3 separate regions of the Homo sapiens genome follow, and all the other regions are linked to region 3. The links come from fine-mapping of genetic effects on gene expression. A gene starts in region 3. Each other region holds a variant in brackets. All regions are shown on one strand. Distances are between the middles of the regions.

Region 1 (6,145 bases), 36 kb after region 3:
AAACTATAATCTAAAGGAATGTAATGTTCTGAACTAAATTCTTAAATCTCCACTGGAGTTTTCTATTGTTGTTTTCTATTTTCTAAAAGGATCACAGGCAGAACAATATTTTTTAAGAAGGTAAGTGATCCTTGTATACTTTTGTATAGTCTCAGAATGTCTCTCCTGGCCAAAAATTGTCGTTCTTTGTTCAGAGAAATTGCATTTTAGTGAAACAGTTACCTAGAAGATTCTCTGATGGTGTGATTTATTGTGTGGCAGCAGCCACCTAGTCCAGTTGAAAGAGCACTGGTATAAAGTCAAATCGTTTATAAGTAGAATCCCAATCCCTCTGTTTGCTGCCTGTGTGACTCTGAATAACTGAGTCCTCATTATTTTACCTATCAAATATAACTAATACTCTCTTCTTATAAAATTGTATTAAAAATCAAATAAATAGAACCATATATAAAGCCAGCACATGCCTAGCTTAAAGCAGATTCTTAATATATATTTGCATTTTCACCTTCTTTGTAACATTTGCTTTATTATACTCTCAAAAGTCAGCAATCTAGACATCAATATGCATATTATAATCATCCACATCAGTGTAATGAGTTAGATTTTACAAATTGTTTGCATTTATGTCATTGGAAACTCAGGCTCTGGGAAATGATCTTTTGCAAAGCTACTAAGACACAGAGCTGAGACAATGGGCCCAGTTCTCCCTGTGAAATTGTTTTGTGGATTGGTATCATCAGCTCCCTGAAGCACCTTCATTAAAATAGATTTGGAAAGTAGCTAGTTTGGGAGCCATGTCTTTGGTTTTGAAAGCTGCAAGCTGGAAGAGCATGTGCGGGTTGATACAGGATCTGAAGATGGAACAATCACATGCCCAATATTATTCCCAAGGAAAGAGCCAGCCTGCTGGGCTGGATAAAGAAAATCCACTATAAAGTGTGTTTATCCTAAGAACCGGGACTGCCCGGCTTCCCTATAAGTGCCAAGTGGAACACCACTAATAAAGCAGCTGACATTCTTTATATGCAAGTTGTGAAACTGGCTTTAAAAGTTTATAAAGAAAATAAAAAAGAGAAAGAAATGGAAAAGAAAATTCTAACAGAAATTCTTAAGACACGATTGCAAGAGGAAGTCGTTTTTGCTTTCCTGTGCTAGCAGTTTCTTTCTCAGAGTGGTTCTTCCACCTAGTTCTGGTGACTCACATCCTTGGCTGCAGGCACTTTGCTTATCTTGAGTGCTATAAAGCAGCGGTTCCCAACCGTTTTGGCACCAGGGACCAGTTTCATGGAAGACAATCTTTCCACAGACAAGGGGTAGGGAGATAGTTTAGGGGTGATTCAAGCACATTACACTTATTGTGCACTTTATTTCTATTATTACTACATTGTAATATATAATGAGATAATACTTATAAAACTCACCATAATGTAGAGTCAGTAGATGCCCTGAGCTTGTTTTCCTGCAACTAGATGGTCCCATCTGCAGATGATGGGAGACAGTAACAGATCATCAGATATTAGATTCTCATAAGGAGCATGCAACCGAGATCCCTCCCATGCACAGTTCACAGGAGGATTTGTGCTCCTATGAGAATCTAATGCCACAGCTGATCTGACAAAAGGTGGAGCTCAGATGGTAGTGCAAGCAATGGGGAGCAGCTGTAAACACAAATGAACCTTTTCTTGCTCACCCGCCACTCACCTCCTGCTGTGCATCCTGGTTCCTAATAGGTCACACACTGGTCCAGGCCCGGGGACTGGGGACCTGTGCTGTAAAGCATCATGAAATGTGAGCCCTCATGGGATCAATCAAATTAAATAGCTAGCAAACATCTATACTGAGCACCTACTATATGCCACATAGTAGGTACTCAACATAGATGTTTTAATCAGATATTCTACTTAACTCAAATAGGATCCTGATTGTGACTTCTCAAAAGTCTGTAATCTAGACATCTTTATGCATATTATAATCATCACATCAGTGTAATGAGTTAGAGTGTACAAGTTTTCTGCATTTATGTCGTTGGAAACTAAGGTTCTGGACTTACTGTGGCCTTTAGTCTGATTTGCTACTAAGAATATCTGACCAGGAGTATCTATCTCATGTTGTCTCTCCATCTGGATATAAGCTACCCTAGGGCAAGGACTAGGTCTTGTCTGTGGAGGACAGACTACTTAGCATGGCATATGTGGAACACATGGATAACTTTTCTTTGATGGATTACTTTTGTCTAAATTATCAAGTCACTGTTATAGACACAGTTGCTGCCTAGAAGAATTCAGACAATTTGGTTTATATATATAGTGGCATTAGTAATATTTTATTTAAAACCTTCAGAATGCCAGCGTTCTACGCTGTAATCCAGTCAGTAGAATGTTGTGGGTTTTTTTTGTTTGTTGTTTTTTTTTTTGAAAAAAGCTTGAAATCAAAGGCAAAAAAGGTCTGAGGGGTTATTTTACCAGGGTTAAGGCAAGGCCTTTCTACAGAGAAGCTGCCTTCCAGTGGCCACATTGCTGGAGTCTCTTCAGTGCTCCCCTCAACTCCTTTATTTTCTATTTCATGAGGTAATTAATTTTTTACAAAAAATATTTACAGAAAACTCTGATTTACTATAACTCCTTAGCAAAATATATATATATATATATAATCTAAAATAGTATAAAACAAATTTTCCCAACTGGTTTTGGATAACTTTCTTCTTTGGCTTTCTCTCTGGTTTCCTCCAGTTGCTTGTTGCATGCCTTCTAAACAGCCTACCCTGCCAAGTGCCATGATTACTGTGACCACATCTTCAGAACCAGAAAACAGGATACCTGGCCCTAAGCATGCACTCATGGAGCAGAAGAGTTTTAAATCTGGAATGCCACAGAAGACAGAAGATAACATGCTTACTACACTTGTAAAGCAACATGCAGCCAGCCATTTCCAGTGCAAATTATCTCATTGCATAGTGTGACAACTAAAGGTCATAACCATAAT[A/G]CAAATCGTGTTTTTCTTGTAATCTATCCTTGGGTTAAATGTGAACTCCAGGAGAGCAAAGACTTTGTGGGTATCCCCAGCACTGACATCTGTGACCAGCATATGATAAACTGTAGTTGTACATAGGAGAGAATCAATAACTATTTGTAGAACTGAATATATTTTATTGCAACCCTTTTCATAATGTTAAGATAATAGACATCATAGTGTAACTAACAGTGCCTTAGAAGTGGATATCAGAGACTTGGCTACCACCAACAAGCAACTGTGAATGAGTAACTTCTCTGAATATCTCTTTGTTCATCAGGAAATTGAGAGAGATGGGGCAGATTTATTTTTTAGGTCCCTTCCACCTGTGAAGTGCTATTTCTCTCCACCTTCACTTATGATCATTCATTCACCAGGGCATGCAGACATTAGTCATTGCTCAGAACTCAGTGTTTCCAGTAGACATGGATTGGGAGCAATAAAAGTGGACCCAGAGCTAATTACTGGGAATTCCTACTTGAATACAGAATGCTATAGCAGTTCAACACATGGAAAAGGATGTCTAGCCCATGAGGAATAAATACTCGATCTTTAATGCTTCATTTCTAGAGCCACAGCTTGTGTTAAAAGAACCACCTTCACCAAGCAGTCCAATGAGAACAAACTCTAGGACAAACATTCTCTGCCAACAGAGCTAACTAGATGGAGAAAAAGAAAATGAATGAAATCTAGGGAAAAAAATGGAGCCACCCAGTTCAAGACAGTGCAGGTGGAGGAGCAGTATGTTTAGACCGCATCGCAGGTAGAATTCAGAGGGACTGTAAGCGATGCCTGGAAACGCTTGTTGACCAACAATGGGCTCCTATAGAACCAAGGGACTATCATTCTCCTATTGCAGAATAATTTTTCTAGATACTTTATTTTATTATAATGAAAGTTCCTTCTAGTATCTTAATGACCTTAGGGAATTGGTATTCATATCCTGTTAGTTGAGAGAAGAGAGTTTTTCCAGTGGGAACGTGAATAAATTTAAATGAGTCACCCCTCAAGTACCAAGCACCACTGTTCCCAGGTTTAAATGACAATTACTATTCCTTCAGTGAACCATGGCCACTCTGAGATTGGGTGTGGGGAGGAGAAAGGAATGGAATGCCAGTGAAACCATCTTCTATTGTCATCCTCCTCTGGGGCCTCACTCAGTTGTAGTCTTGCATCTGAGACCTTGGCCTCTTTGTGAAATAAACATTTCTTGGCCCTGTCTTGCAGGAAAATTGGAAGCCTGACCCTAAAATAAGCTAATATCATCCATAGACCAGACCAAAAGAAAAGCAGGGAGAATTTGGCACAAAGCAGCTCTCTTCAAGAAATTATTTTCCATGTCATATTTGCATAAATTAGTCATGGGCCCGCCAATTCAATGAAAGAGGAAAAGAGCACTCATGACCCTAGTGTGCTGGCATCCTGTTGTCCTTTATAGCTAAGGTCAGACTGTTTCTCCTTTTGCCTCATGTCGGCTCCTCTTAGTCGACTAAGACTGGCAAATCTGAGGCTACAGATTGTGCTATGAATGAGCAGCTGGAATTGCGCAACATTTTACTTGGCTAATATTTCAGTTTGTTGAGTCAGTGGCCTGACAAGTAGCTACAGCCCATGAAACAGCATTTTCTGACTCAGTGCATGTGCGAAAGAAGTAGTAGCTAAAGGTTCTGTTGGCACAGCCTTCTGACTCCACAGCATTGTTCTAGGATCTAGATTCCTCTCTACTTAACTCGGTTTCATTGCTTCCTATAAATTCTATGTAAATCTCAGACCCTCAGTAACATATCCCAAGACACATGATGAGCAACACTTGGTATTCAGTTTTCTCCAGCGCTGTGAAAGAGTCCCACCAGGAAACAATAAGGCCTTTTAGCCTATTAATTCATGAGCAATTTGATGCCTCTTAGGCGATAAGTGCAAGTTGAGAAATGAATTTCCTGCTGCTAAAATTCCAACGCTTTAGAAACTCTTCAGTGAACAAATAAAAGTTTATTCTTTGCAATAATGATGGAAACAAAGACTTTCATAAAACCAAACAATTGAAATGTCTTGATAAATGCCTGCAGAGTTGGCTAGGTTTCTAAACTATCAAATAATGAGTTTACCTCTTCTTACACTTTTTCAAGAATCCATTGAAGAATCAAGATAGGAAAGAGTATGATTCTTCATTTTTCCTAGCCATGCTCCACTGCTCTATGTTATCATAAAAGGACTTTAATTAAAGTGTTATTCCATTAATTGCCCAAGAAGTCATATTTGAAAGAAATAAATGCTTATATATGTATGCTTACATGTCCCTTCTGGAAGTCTTAACCTTTAAAACTACTCCAGCCCCTTCCCCAAACGTCCTTCCCCAATTCCTTATGCACTTACTGGATTCAAAGCACGACACTATAAAAGCTGTGAGAAGAAAAAAATATAAATTTAAAGAAAACTTTTTTTCAGAAAGATAATTAAATTCAATGTAACAATAATAACTACTCGTTTTCAAAACTCAGCTCTTCAACTATTTCTCCTAGAATTTTTTTCCAAAACTCTTACTTCAAGTCTAACACTCCTTCATCTCAGTTTTCTCTTTCATGATTATGTATTTTAACTCATAGGTATACTCTTTAAGACAGGGGCTATCCCTGAGACCTATCCCACATCCTGAGAAGGGCTTGGCACTCTCCTTGTCAGATAGCCTGTTGCCTCCTCAGCCACACTGTGAGCTCCTTGATAGAAAGAATTGTGCTATCTGTGGCTTTCAGAGCCCTATTCAGATACTTGATGCTTAACATGTGCTTGTAGAGTCGGTAAACTGAATGTATGTGGAGCCTCCAGAACTGTGTTCCCATTGAGGATGACAGGGAACAGATCAATCCTTGTCCTACATGGCCTAAATCTTAGTTTGACAAATATCTGGAAAGAATTACAAAAATATAAGGTAGGAATGACTTGGGAGTCCAGGGTGGTGTCTGAACCCTAGTCACTGCCTTGGGCACACATTTCTCATACTGTTGCAATATCACAGTTGTTGACTTTCAGTTCACTCAGTTGGTCAACTCCCTAAAGTTGGTTAAGGACCCTCATACCCCTCATCCTACTCTTTTCTTCTACCCCAAACCCCCTTTGCTCAGGACTTCCAGTGGTTCCC
Region 2 (6,145 bases), 840 kb before region 3:
CCTCCCACCTCAGCCTCACAAGTACCTATGACTATAGGTGTGCACCACTATGATGGGCTAATTTTTAAATTTTTTGTAGAGACAGGCTCTCCCTTTGTTGCCCAGGCTGATCTCAGAATTCCTGGGCTCAAGTGATCCTCATTCCTCAGCCTCCCAAATTGTTGGGATTACAGATATGAGCCACTGCACCCTGCCTCCATACTCATTTCTATCCTAGCTTTGTGTTGTATACATGCTTCACAGCACTTAATACATTTTGTTATAATTATTTATTTTCACATCATTCTCGCCTTCTGGTTTGTGAGTTTCTTGACAGAATACTTATGTCACTCACCTCTATATACTGCACATCGTGACAATTTCTGAACTTTACTACGTATTACATGGTTTTTAGATGGACACGTAATTGATCACAATTGAGAGGAGGTCTATAGGCTATGATCTGTACACCAAATCCTGCCCACTGCCTGTTTTTGTAAATAAAGTTTTATTGAAACACTGTGCACCCATTCATTCACATACTGTTTATGGCTGCTTTCTTATTATAACAAGGGAACTGATTAGTTGCAACAAAGATTATATGACTTGCAAAACCTAAAATGTTTATTGTCTGTTCTTTTTCAGAAAAGTTTGCTGACGCCTGATATGGAGCACTAGAAAGAAATTATTTTTCCAAGCATCAACCCGGAAGTCCCAGCATACCGAGGTTAACCAAAACACTTATATTCTGTTCTCTCACAATTCTCTGAAACTACTTCTCTTCTAAAATGTATGACACTATATGGTAACCTATATTTCCCACTAGAATCTGGGAATATGTAAGCTTTATAGGGGTTGTGCATGATATAAGTATTTTTACCTACTTTTTACCTGCTTACCTCTTAGGAGAATTTTGAAAAACCCAGCACATCTTAAAATTGAGATCTAAAATTTTTCACTGGAGATTCAGGCCACTGCACAATACATAACTTTGTGCAAATATAAATATAGACTATTTAAAATAAAACTGTTCCACCCAAGATAATTTACACAACAAAGTGTTTGATATCCACTATTATCCATCTAAAGAAGCTTTGGCTTACGCTTAAGATGAAGAAGGCCACAAGAGAAAACCCCTTCCACTCTAACAATGAGAACAAACCAGAGAGTCTGCAAAATCATGATGTTTGCAGCCCATTAGTGAGCTGAGGTTGCAAGGCCACCTGGTGAGCTAAGACCCAAGGTTGACAGGTCATTCTGAGGACAGCAGGACAGAAACAAGCTGTTGGACATTTATCGCAGCAGTGAGAAGAGATGGCTGCCATAGAATTCTTACTAGTGAGTGTTAGCGTGGTATGCTTCCATAGGAGAAGGCTGCACTCTCCTGCCAACTCTTTCCTTACACCTCTACCTGATGCTTACATGGAAGATCTGGACAGGAACCAGGGATCAAAGGGGCACAAAAAACCTTTTTCCGATGAAGGAATTTTTCTATAGCTTATATTGGTGGTTAAACAATTGATATAATTATCAAAATTCGTCAAAATGAACCACCTAAAAGTGGAATTTATTATATATAAATTATACCTCAAAAAAGCTTAAATATAGGCCAGGTGCAGTGGCTCATGCCTGTAAGCCCAGCACTTCAGGAGGCTGAGGCGGGCAGATCACGAGGTCAGGAGTTTGACACCAGCTTGGCCAATGTGGTGAAACCCGTCTCTACTAAAAATACAAAACATAATTGGGTATGGTGGTGCTTGCCTGTAATCCCAGCTACTGGGGAAGCTGAGGCGGGAGAATAGCTTGAACCCAGAAGGCACAGGTTGTAGTGAGCCAAGATCGCGCCACTGCACTCTAACCTGGGTGACAGAGTGAGACTCCATCTCAAAAAAAAAAAAAAAAAAGCTGAAATAATTTGGAGCAAAAGGAGTGGTAGAATTGTATGAACAATATAATATTCTTTATGTAATTTTTAAAACATGAAAAAATACTACATATTATTTATGGATTACAGTATGCACAGAAATGATAAACACAAAATTTAGGATAGGGATTACTTTGGGGGAGAGAGGGGAAGAATAAGGTAAGAGTATACAGTGAGTGTTAACTGAATATACTGTGCATCATTTCTTTTTCAAAACAAGAAGTAAATATCAATAAGCAAAAGGTTAAGATTGTATATAGTTGGGTGATGACCATATAGAGGTTTGTAATGTTACTTTTCATAATTAATGAAAGTAATTTGAAGTTAAACTTACATAGTACAAAAATTCTAAACAATAAATAACATAATTGAAATTAAGACAAACAAGGGGCAAGAGCTAGATAGAGCTGTGGAGGGGAACAGGCAGAACAGCATGGTCGACCTGTGGATTTTGTAATGTTTTTGCAGCACAAATAAAATTCTTCCCAAAACAGTTATAATTCTCATTCCCTTCCATGCTACTGTACTTTGCCCTTCTTTTTTTAGGGAAAGACAGATTTCTACCCATCAGTGATGCTTTTCCTTTGAGAATCAGAAGGGACAAGTGGCCAGGCCTGCCAGCTTGATTCTATCTTTAAGGACAGGTGCCTGCTAACATTCGACAATTTTAAAAAAGTATAACATCTAATAAAGCAGTCAAAGAATAAAATGACTGTATTTGGACAGTAGTTCCTCTGGTCCCCAGCATTTGTACTTCTCGCCACGATATGGGTAGTTTACATAGTTGCTCAGCAGCCTGCCTCCTGCAGTTTGTGTTTCAAGACATACAATTTATCTCCTGGACACCCTCACTTCCCACCACTTTTGGTCACTTCTATTCCCTTTGGAGTGCGTAGATTGATGCTGAGGAAGATATCAGCCAGCATACAGAGATAACTACTGGTACTTCCTCTTCCTTCTCCTCCTTGCTTCCTCCTCCTCTTTTCATTCTCTTCTTCCTTCCCATGTTCTTTTTCCTTTTTTTCTAACAAGGACGGCAATTACAATCTTGGCCATGCCTGACATCCATGATCTTTTCCTATTTTTATTACATCTCTCCTGACAATATTACTGCTAAAAACTCAGAAATATGAGAATTTTCATTTTTAAGATTTCTGTAACTAGACTTAAATCCATCTCTGGGACCACATCTCACTTTTGTAGGTAGAAATTCTATCTCAGTCCTCATTAGGGTGTTTCCTCATCCCATGGGC[A/G]TGCACCACAGTACTGGGATGTTCACTTGGCCGTTGTTCATTAGTCCACACTTGTTGAGTCTTCTGTTGTTCCAGAATGAATGGCCCCTTCCACATCACAGGCTCTGTTGTCATAGTTTTTGAAGCATGGGCACTTGGACGCCTAGTTTCTATATCCCCAGGGGTACCAGGTAGTCATCTCAAAGTCTTATCACCTTCCCTAGATACTGCCTCTGATAGCAATTAGTTCTTTCACCTTCCACTATGTCTTAGTCCATTTTTGCATTGCAATAAAGGAATATATGAGGCTGGGTAATTTATAAAGAAAAAGGGTTATTTGGCTCCTCATTCTTCTGGCTGGAAGATTGGGCATCTGGTGAAGGCCTCTGGCTGCTTCCACTCATGGCAGAAGGTGAAGGGAAGCCAGCATGTGCAGAGATCACATGGCCAGAAAGGAGGAAATAGGTGGGCTGGGGGGTGGGGTGCTAGGCTCTTTTTAACAACCAGCTCTTGTGGGACCCAATAGAGCAAAAACTGACTCATTCCATGAGAACAGCACGAAGCCATTTGTGAAAGGTCTGTCCCACCTCTCACTAGGCCCCACTTCTAGTATTGAGGATTAAATTTCAACATGAAATTTGGAGGGACAGACAAGCAAACTGTAGCATATTACACTGAGATTTGCTTTAAATTGGGATTCATTTCTTCCTTTCCCTCTTTTTTTGTCAAGTGTTGCCATTCTCTCATTCAGTTCCCCTCAGCCATTCTCCCTCTCTTCTCTCCCCATCCCCCATCAGGGTGGCAGACATCATTTCTTCAATGAACTTAGTATTTAGAAAGATATCTTCACTCCAAGCATCAAGTCTTTTCTGTCCTGCAAAAGTCTTAAGGTAAGAAAATATATACTGGCCTGGCCACATGTTCAAAATGAGGAAATACTTAAAAAATATGAAGACCAAATAAGAGTTAATTGATACTCCTGTGCATTATCCTGGAACGCAATCTATAGAAATGATTCCTGATGATAGCAACTGTTCATTTTCTAATAACTCACCTCTGGCTTGAAAATACATGTGTGAAATTCTTTAGCCTGATTTAGACAATTACTTTTAGAATCAAACTGTCTTACATTAAACTTCTCAGCTTTCTCACATTCTAGCTGACATCTTGGTTCCCTGAGGTGGGCACTGTAATGGGCCTCCCAGATCCCTCTTCAATGGCCAGATCCCTCTTTTGCCCCAACTTGAAAGTGCTCTTTGCAGACAACCTTTGGCTCCTCTGCTGCTTCAGGCATTGCCTCAGCTGCAAATAAGCTCCTTACCCCAAGTCATGCCTTTTTTCAGTATAGTCTGCCTTTAATTACTGACTGATGCTGGGTAGTAAAGGCATGGCCATACTTCCCCAACCTGAGACCACTCTGTTGGACCCTTACAGCTTTAGAACTCCCTGTGGTTGGTTGAGGCTTTCTTTGAGGCTGCATCACAGCTCAACTTCTTCCCCTCCCTCCCTCTGCCTACTACTGCTTCTCTTCTCTCCTTTCAACTAGTTTTGATCCAAAGGGCACTCCTTAATAAATTCCCTGTGTACTGTGATCCATTTCACCTGCTCCCCAGCTTGCAACACTTCCTAAAATCAACTCCCTCATTTGTAACACAGCACTATTGTAAAGATTAAATAAAATAGTATATGCCTTACTATAGTGCTTGGCACATACACACACCAACAAATGGTGGAAACTATTATTTCTATAGTTGCTCAAAAATAACTTTGCTAAAATACATTCTCAACTTTTCATCTTTCTAATCTAGTCAAACCAGAATCCACTAGTAGAGGGCACCTTTGGATTCAACAGTAAAAGGAGAATCTACAAAACCAGCTCATCAAAAGGGTAAGTTTCTCTTTCCATGCTATGGCTGCTAGATTTGTTTGCCAACAATATGTTGCAACATTTCTGCAGGCAATAGCTTAAATAATGTTTTTCTAAATGGAAGTAGGGAATTCTGGTTGTGACACAACACCTGCAAAGATATTTTCACTTTGGTGCCAAGATATCTTTAGAAAAAATACTATGCATTCCTTATTTTCATCAAAATGAGACTATCTATAGATACTTACAAAGTAATGAGTGGCCAGGAGTGGTAATGCCAATATCTGATTATAGTATTTGTTTAGCTATCCTCTCTAAAAGATCCTTGTCCCATTATAATGCCCCAAATTTGACTCTTTACAATTAACTCCTTTCCTTCTTTATGACAAGGTGAGAATACAAGAATAGCTTATTGTTTTCCATATTAATGTGCATGGCAACTCACTTGGGAACTTATTATAAATGTAAGTTCCAGCATGCTACTCTCAGAGTTTCTGATTCAGTGGATCTGAGTTGGAGCTCAGGAATGTGCATTTTTCAATAAGCACCCAGAAAATTTTCATGCTTATTGTGAGAAACACTTGCATAGAAAATGGCTGGATTAGTCCCTACTCAGTCCAGGGAATAAAGAAGAAGGAGTAAGATTAAAAATAAATTTTTAAACATTGCCACACCCAGGATTTCAACTATCATCTTGTGGAACCCACATGAGACACTTTTGAAAGAGCTAAAACAAACACCACTCCTACAGGCCAAGCTTGTCATATGACACTTATTATTAGGTGATCATTTATCATGTGGAGCAAGGCTTGATCTAGGGTTAAACACTTGCATTTTTTTTTTCTTTCCTCACTGACAGCTCTTTCCCAGCCTGTGTTGAAGTGTCACAGGGCTCAGACCTTCGTCTTCTCATTTCCTAGGTTGTCCATGCTCATGACTGTAAATGTCATCTATTAAATATAAATTCCTAAACTTACATTTACAGTTTTGGTCCCTTGAGCTTCAGTTCAGAAATTTGTCTACTGGGCATCTCCACTTGAATACAGAATAGACATTTCAAACTTAACTTGTCCACAGTTGAGATCTTAACTTATAATCTCCCCAACTATTCATCCCCATGATTTATGTATCTAAGCAAAATGA
Region 3 (6,105 bases):
AAGGGGAACATCACACTCTGGGGACTGTTGTGGGCTGGGGGGAGGGGGGAGGGATAGCATTAGGAGATATACCTAATGCTAAATGACAAGTTAATGGGTGCAGCACACCAGCATGGCACATGTATACATATGTAACTAACCTGCACATTGTGCACATGTACCCTAAAACTTAAAATATAATAATAATAAAATAAAAGAAAAAAAAAAAGAAGTGAACTTAAAATACCCAGCAACAATAGCCTATGAGCTAGAAGGTGGTTAAACGTAAAAGTTCCAAAATCCTTGTTTTTTGAGTAGGAATATAAAGGTAAATGTTGATACATTGGATTTGTTGAAACATCGATTGTTATTTTTCATCATTTCCGAAAGATTTTTGCCATTGTCACTTCAAATGTTGTCTCTGACCCTTTCCTCTCTCTTCTGCTTGTGACAATCCAATTAGACATCTATTAGAGCTTACACCTGTATCCTCTACGCCTTTCGACTTCTTTCTCCAAATTTCTACCTCTTTATCTCTCTTATAAGAATTCCAGAAGTTCTTTGGTTCTATTTTCTAGTTTTCTAATTTTATTTTCAACTGTGTCTAATTTGTTATAAAATTTATCCACTGAAATTTGTTAATTAAATAATTATGTTTTTACTTCTCAGAGTATTGTTTGATTTGTTTGCAAATATGCTTAGGCTTTAACCATATTTTAAACTTCTTTGCCTCACATTTATCAGTTTTACTCCTCAGTTACTGATAAGCAACTTATAATATGTACTCTCTTTCCTCTTTAAATGTCCAGCTATGCTAAAGCGCACAGACATACAAACCGGTTAATCGAAATCTGAAGACAGACTTATTAGCAAGATAGTATACAGTGGGGAGTTGAAAACATTTCCAACATTCTGTGGAGGACACTACTGTTTGTAACCTATTTCTGGAAAGGAGTTCTGTTTTCTAAAAATAAAAGTTTGTAATTTTCCATAAACAAAATGCTAAGGGGAAGCATTTATGTTTTCTAAATCAAAGTATAATTTTAAATATAAACAAAGAGAATCCCAATAAGCTAAAACTAAAAAAAAGACAAACACTTGATTACTTTGACAACAAATTATATTTTAAATGTTTCATATTTACTTTTATATTTCCATACAATCAGAAACAGTAAAAAAAATTTGGAGAGCACATAAAAACATCTTAAAGTTAAAAATATAAAGCCTTGTATTTAAAAATGCAGTCATTTAAATAATATTATAAGAATCTATTTGTACATAATAAACAAGTTTCAACCAGCAAGAAATTACTAATATTGACTGTGGAGTTTTGGCTGTTTTAATAGTTCTAACTCATTATTCCGTAATTCAACACAGCACTACCAACACAGCTGGCAATGACAAGACTGGGAGTATCAAACTAGGATTGTTAGTTCAATTAAAATTTCAGATAAACAATAATGTACTTATACTAAAAAATTATTTGTTGTTTATCTGAAATGAAAATTTAACTGGGTACCCAATTGTTTGTTTGTTTAATCTAAAAACCCTGATTGAAATTTATCTAATAAAACATCATTTAATATCTAAAATAAAATAAATTTACTATAACATCTTTATAACTATTCAATCAATGATTCATCTTCTATTTTTCCAAATTCTTGCACAAATATTTGATGCTTAAATAAATACATAAATAATAAATAGGTTAATAAGTTACACTTGAAAATAATTTATGTTATGATGAAAAAACTTAAAGTGCTTCCACATGTCCTCACAACATCACTGTGAGGTAAGATGGTGGCTAATACTTTTTCCACTTAGAAATAAAGGAGAAACCAAGGCACAGTGGAACAAGGACTTGTGGATCCTGGCTAGCAGACTAGGGTTGCCAGATTTAACAGAAAAAAATCCAGGATTTCCAGCTAAATTTGACTTTATGGCAAAATTTATTGTCCCATCATTTTTATGTGATGCTTCAAATATCACATTCTAGCAAACCCATTCAATTCCTGAAATTAAAGTTCGGATATTCTCTTGGCCCTTGGCCTCAATTTTGCTATTTGTATATTCTCCCGTGCAATATCTAGGAAAATCCTTATATTTAAAAATTATTTGTTGTTTTTTGTAGATTCAAATAAATAATACTTTACATATAAGTATGTTCTGGATATTTCATGGTACAATGAAAAACTATTCATTGTTTACTGAAATTCAAATTTAACCAGGAATCTTGTATTGCATCTGGCAACCCTACAACAGACCCACACAATACATGAAGTGTTGAAGTAGATTTGCTTGAAGTTTCACTGGCATCTTCACTGATTCTTGGATACCACAGAGAATGAATTTTTTTATGAATTCTCAGCCCTAAAATAAAATTAAAAATATAAAGATGAGCTATGTTTAATAAGAAGGAAAGTAGGGTTCTTGAAAAGTCAATATAGTCTTTGACATTCATGTGTTAGAAATGCTCTATATTCTCAACTATAAATAGGGAGATCAAAGAAATTATCATCTAAAATAGGACACTACTGGGAGTGACAAAGAACTTTACTAAGAGTATAGGACACAAGCTTAAACCCAGAATTTCCTGGGCAAACTATGTATGGTCTTTCTGGTCATGAGTACAACAAACTCACTATTGATGCTATTCCTTTTTTTTTTAACCAAAAAGGCAGATACCTAATGACGATTTTTAGCAACAGAAAGAAATTTATAGGCTGACTTTGGATTATATGTCTCAGGATAAATGAAAAATTTAAATTAAAAAATATATAACTTACCTCTTCAAAAACTTCTCCACAACCCTCTGCACCCAGTTTTCCTTGGGGTCCAGACAGAGCTCTCTTCCATCAGAAAGCTTTACACTGAAATAAGAAAGAAATGGTTCAGATTAATATTTAGTTTTTGCATTCAAATCATGATTCCTTAAGTCAGGCATAAAGTCTAAGTCCAAAATAACATTTATAGTAGTTGTGGAAGCTACCATATTTAAATGTCATGTAGACAAATATTTTTATTTTGTTTTGTTTCATTTACTACTGTAATCCTAACACCTGGAACTTTCCTAAATATTTCCACCTTCCTTAATTTTAAGTTTGCTAAAACAAAATATCTAATCTTTTTTAAAGTACTTACATAATTTCTGTGTTGGCGCAGTGTGGTCCACTCTCAATCACTCTCAGTTCTTTGATAAATTTGGGGTGGAAAGGTTTGGAGTATGTCTTTATGCACTGACATCTAAGTTCTTTAGCACTCCTTGGCAAAACTGCACCTGTTGGGGGAAAAAGTGATTAAGGATTGATTTTATCAACAGGCACAGCTCTGCCAGCTACTTCCTTTCTAATTCCAATATGATTATTTGGAGACTATGGAAGGCATCATGTTTCTAGTGAACTCATTCCTGAATATTCTCCTAGCCCTTGACCTCAGTTAGTTCTTTGTTTTAAAAAACAGTCATAACTGACAACATTGAACGACTTCCTATATAAAGAGTTAGAGTTCTTTTTGTACAATATCAACATCTTCATGGTATTTTTATCTGGTCAATATTGCATAATCCTCTGTGATACCACAGTGTTATTTATAGTAGGCAAGCTAAGACTCTCCAGCATAGAAATTGCCTTCAGAAAGAATTAACAGAAATATATAAATAAGTTATACATGCCTGGTCTATAATCAGGGTATCTTTAAACCAGACAGGAATTAATGACAAATCTGAGGCTTGTCAATGAAATACTACAAGGAGTGGAATTGTCTGAGTTACCTTGCTCAACTCAATATTAATACATAATATAGGTAACCGTGGTTCTCAATAGGACATACTATAAATTACTTATTTACGTTAAATATATGCATGCTACATGGTATAAATTATAAAAGCAGAATATCTATATTGATCAAACTTTATACTTTCCTAAGTGTTATATATAGTTTTTTCTAAATCTTCAATTTAACATTAATTGACTGCTAAGATTATATTCTGTTTCTGAATAAAAAGGATGTTTGTTACCAAAGCATCAAGAATAGCTTTGCTATCTAAGGATCACATTTAGACATAGGAAAACGCTGTAGGTCAGAAAGATGTGCTTACCTTCACACAGAGCTGCAGAAATCAGGAAGGCTGCCAAGAGAGCCACGGCCAGCTTGGAAGTCATGTTTACACACAGTGAGATGGTTCCTTCCGGTGGTTTCTTCCTGGCTCTTGTCCTAGAAGCTTGTGTGCTCTGCTGTCTCTGAAAGTTTGTGCCTTATGGAGTGCTCCGGTGGCTTTTTATATCATCACCCTACTAGAGAACTTATGCACCCTCATCTTTTCATTATGTCAGAGGAAATTCCACGATTTGCAACTGATGGCCCATCCCCTCAGGGCAAACCTGAGTCATCACACTTCCTATTTGTTCCTTATCAAATACGGAGTATGACGAAAGTTTTCTTTGATCTTTAAAATAATTTAATTTTAATATACATTTAAAATACTGAAGCTCCACAATTTGGTGAATTATCAATTGTATGCTTTTTTATTTCTAGATAACTTTATCATAGTACCATGTGACAGATATAGTACTAGAGTGGCAGGTGTTAGAACAAGATCATGGATGATTTTCTTTTAATGGCATAATTATTTTTTTTCAGTTAATTACAGATGCTATCATGATGGTGAAGATAAGCCAGCCAATCATTTTATTGGGGAGGTAATTTAAAATAAATCTTTTTCTAAGCATTTTAGAGAGTTTCTAGGAACTGTTACTGCTCTTAGGGGGCATACTACAACTTTTCAAAAGATTTAGTTTTCTAATGCATGTTAACAGAGTGAAGGGGCACATGTGCTTCACATAGAAATCAGTTCCACAAACATTTATGGAGTAACTTTCTGAGTAATGTGGGGGATCTAGAAATAGATAAGACTAGGTACTTGTCCTTAAAGAGTTTGGTCTATCAGAAGAAGAAAGCAATGTAAGGACTGACTATATAGCAGAATAGACAAGTGGTACTAAGACATTAATTCCAGTGGAGGCATAAGAGCAGAATCTTCCAAAGGCAGTTGGAGCAAGGCATTGAGGAATAGGAGGGCTTCAATAGAGGAAGATGAAAGAGAACAGCACATTCCAGATAGGAACAGTATTCAAGGCCACTCAAGTTGTAAAGTTAAGGTATGTTTATGCTCCAGAAAGTGGTGCACTGGAGCTGCTTGGTTGGGGTGGGAGGGAGGTGTTATCTAATGGAAAGTTGTATGCTTAGTGGAAAGAGCATCTGGGTTCCAACTCTGGTTCAGCCACTGTTGCTTCATGCTCTTTATCCAAGGACACCAAGTCTGACCTCTGAGGACCCATGATCACTAGCAAAAGGGATGGAGTGAGAAATTTCAACAAATCATAAAAAGGTGGCTTTATGTCCTAGTGTCCTGAAGAAAAGAATCCAAGACCTTTCTTGAAAGGTCTTGGATTCTGTAGATAAAGAGCACCAAGGAAGGGTTCTTATGATAGTAAAAGTCTGTTCGCTTCTGGGCAAGTACATAATTTATAAATAATTCACCTTGGTGTAACAGTTCTTCATTTTCAGAAAGTACGACAGAGCAGTGAATTTGCCCACACTGTGAACACACTGTGGAGGGGGAATGCCATTTTCAAATGCTTTCCAAAAAGGTTTGTCTGTTTCTGCACAATCATGTTTCTTTTTGTTATCTTTCTCCAACCAACCTAAGACTTGAGGATAAAATAATGCCTGGGTTACACTGAATTCTATAGCAAAGTAAATGTTTATTCTATATAATGTAGCTCCTATAGTTTTCAACTGTAGTATTTCAGAAACTTCATTATTCATTTAATATGTGTTGTTTATCTGCTAATGTCCCTTATTGTAGGAGATGTGAATGCTATGTAAATAGATATAGTACCTGACTTAAAGGACTTTGTTGTCTAGTGCAGAATATGGAAAATTAGTTACACAAGTAAGTAAAATACAGTGATGAGTGTTACAATAACAGGTAATTACAGGAAGTTCTGGAATCAAACAAACATGATCTTTGAGGCAGTTTTGATGAATGAAGGTTTTCTGAAGAAACAACATCAAAAGTGTTACCTTTATTGTTAATGAGGAGAAGAAAGACCAATGGGACTGCTT

Which allele goes with the higher level. Alleles are on the strand shown, and positions count from the first base shown. SD is a standard deviation of normalised expression in the study named. Not every link is listed here.
In carriers of allele G in region 2, the expression in spleen of the gene that starts at base 4,229 in region 3 tends to be lower than with A alone (large effect, 1.1 SD a copy in GTEx).

Evidence for each region. PIP is the estimated chance that this variant, and not a neighbour inherited with it, causes the effect.
Region 1: its variant is the best candidate, but not a certain one, in a credible set for the expression of CXCL8 in whole blood (INTERVAL, PIP 0.62).
Region 2: its variant is the best candidate, but not a certain one, in a credible set for the expression of CXCL8 in spleen (GTEx, PIP 0.90).

What each region holds. Positions count from the first base shown.
Region 1 is chr4:73,703,160-73,709,304 of GRCh38, reverse strand. It overlaps INKILN (inflammatory MKL1 (MRTFA) interacting lncRNA), which reads left to right. Exons shown (of 3, transcript NR_185098.1): 2 at 2,730-2,968. Among named protein-coding and RNA genes, the nearest start is that of UMLILO, 4.1 kb to the left of the region's middle. RefSeq lists an enhancer at 1,019-1,313. The variant A/G (reference allele first, on the strand shown) is at 2,983.
Region 2 is chr4:74,582,893-74,589,037 of GRCh38, reverse strand. It overlaps LOC107986229 (a long non-coding RNA gene), which reads left to right and starts at 3,933. Exons shown (of 3, transcript XR_001741513.2): 1 at 3,933-4,025; 2 at 4,944-5,023. The variant A/G (reference allele first, on the strand shown) is at 3,157.
Region 3 is chr4:73,738,693-73,744,797 of GRCh38, reverse strand. CXCL8 (C-X-C motif chemokine ligand 8) reads right to left here and starts at 4,229. Exons shown (of 4, transcript NM_000584.4): 1 at 4,076-4,229; 2 at 3,121-3,256; 3 at 2,766-2,849; 4 at 1,082-2,349. The coding sequence starts at 4,139. The coding sequence ends at 2,334. RefSeq lists a silencer at 5,472-5,766.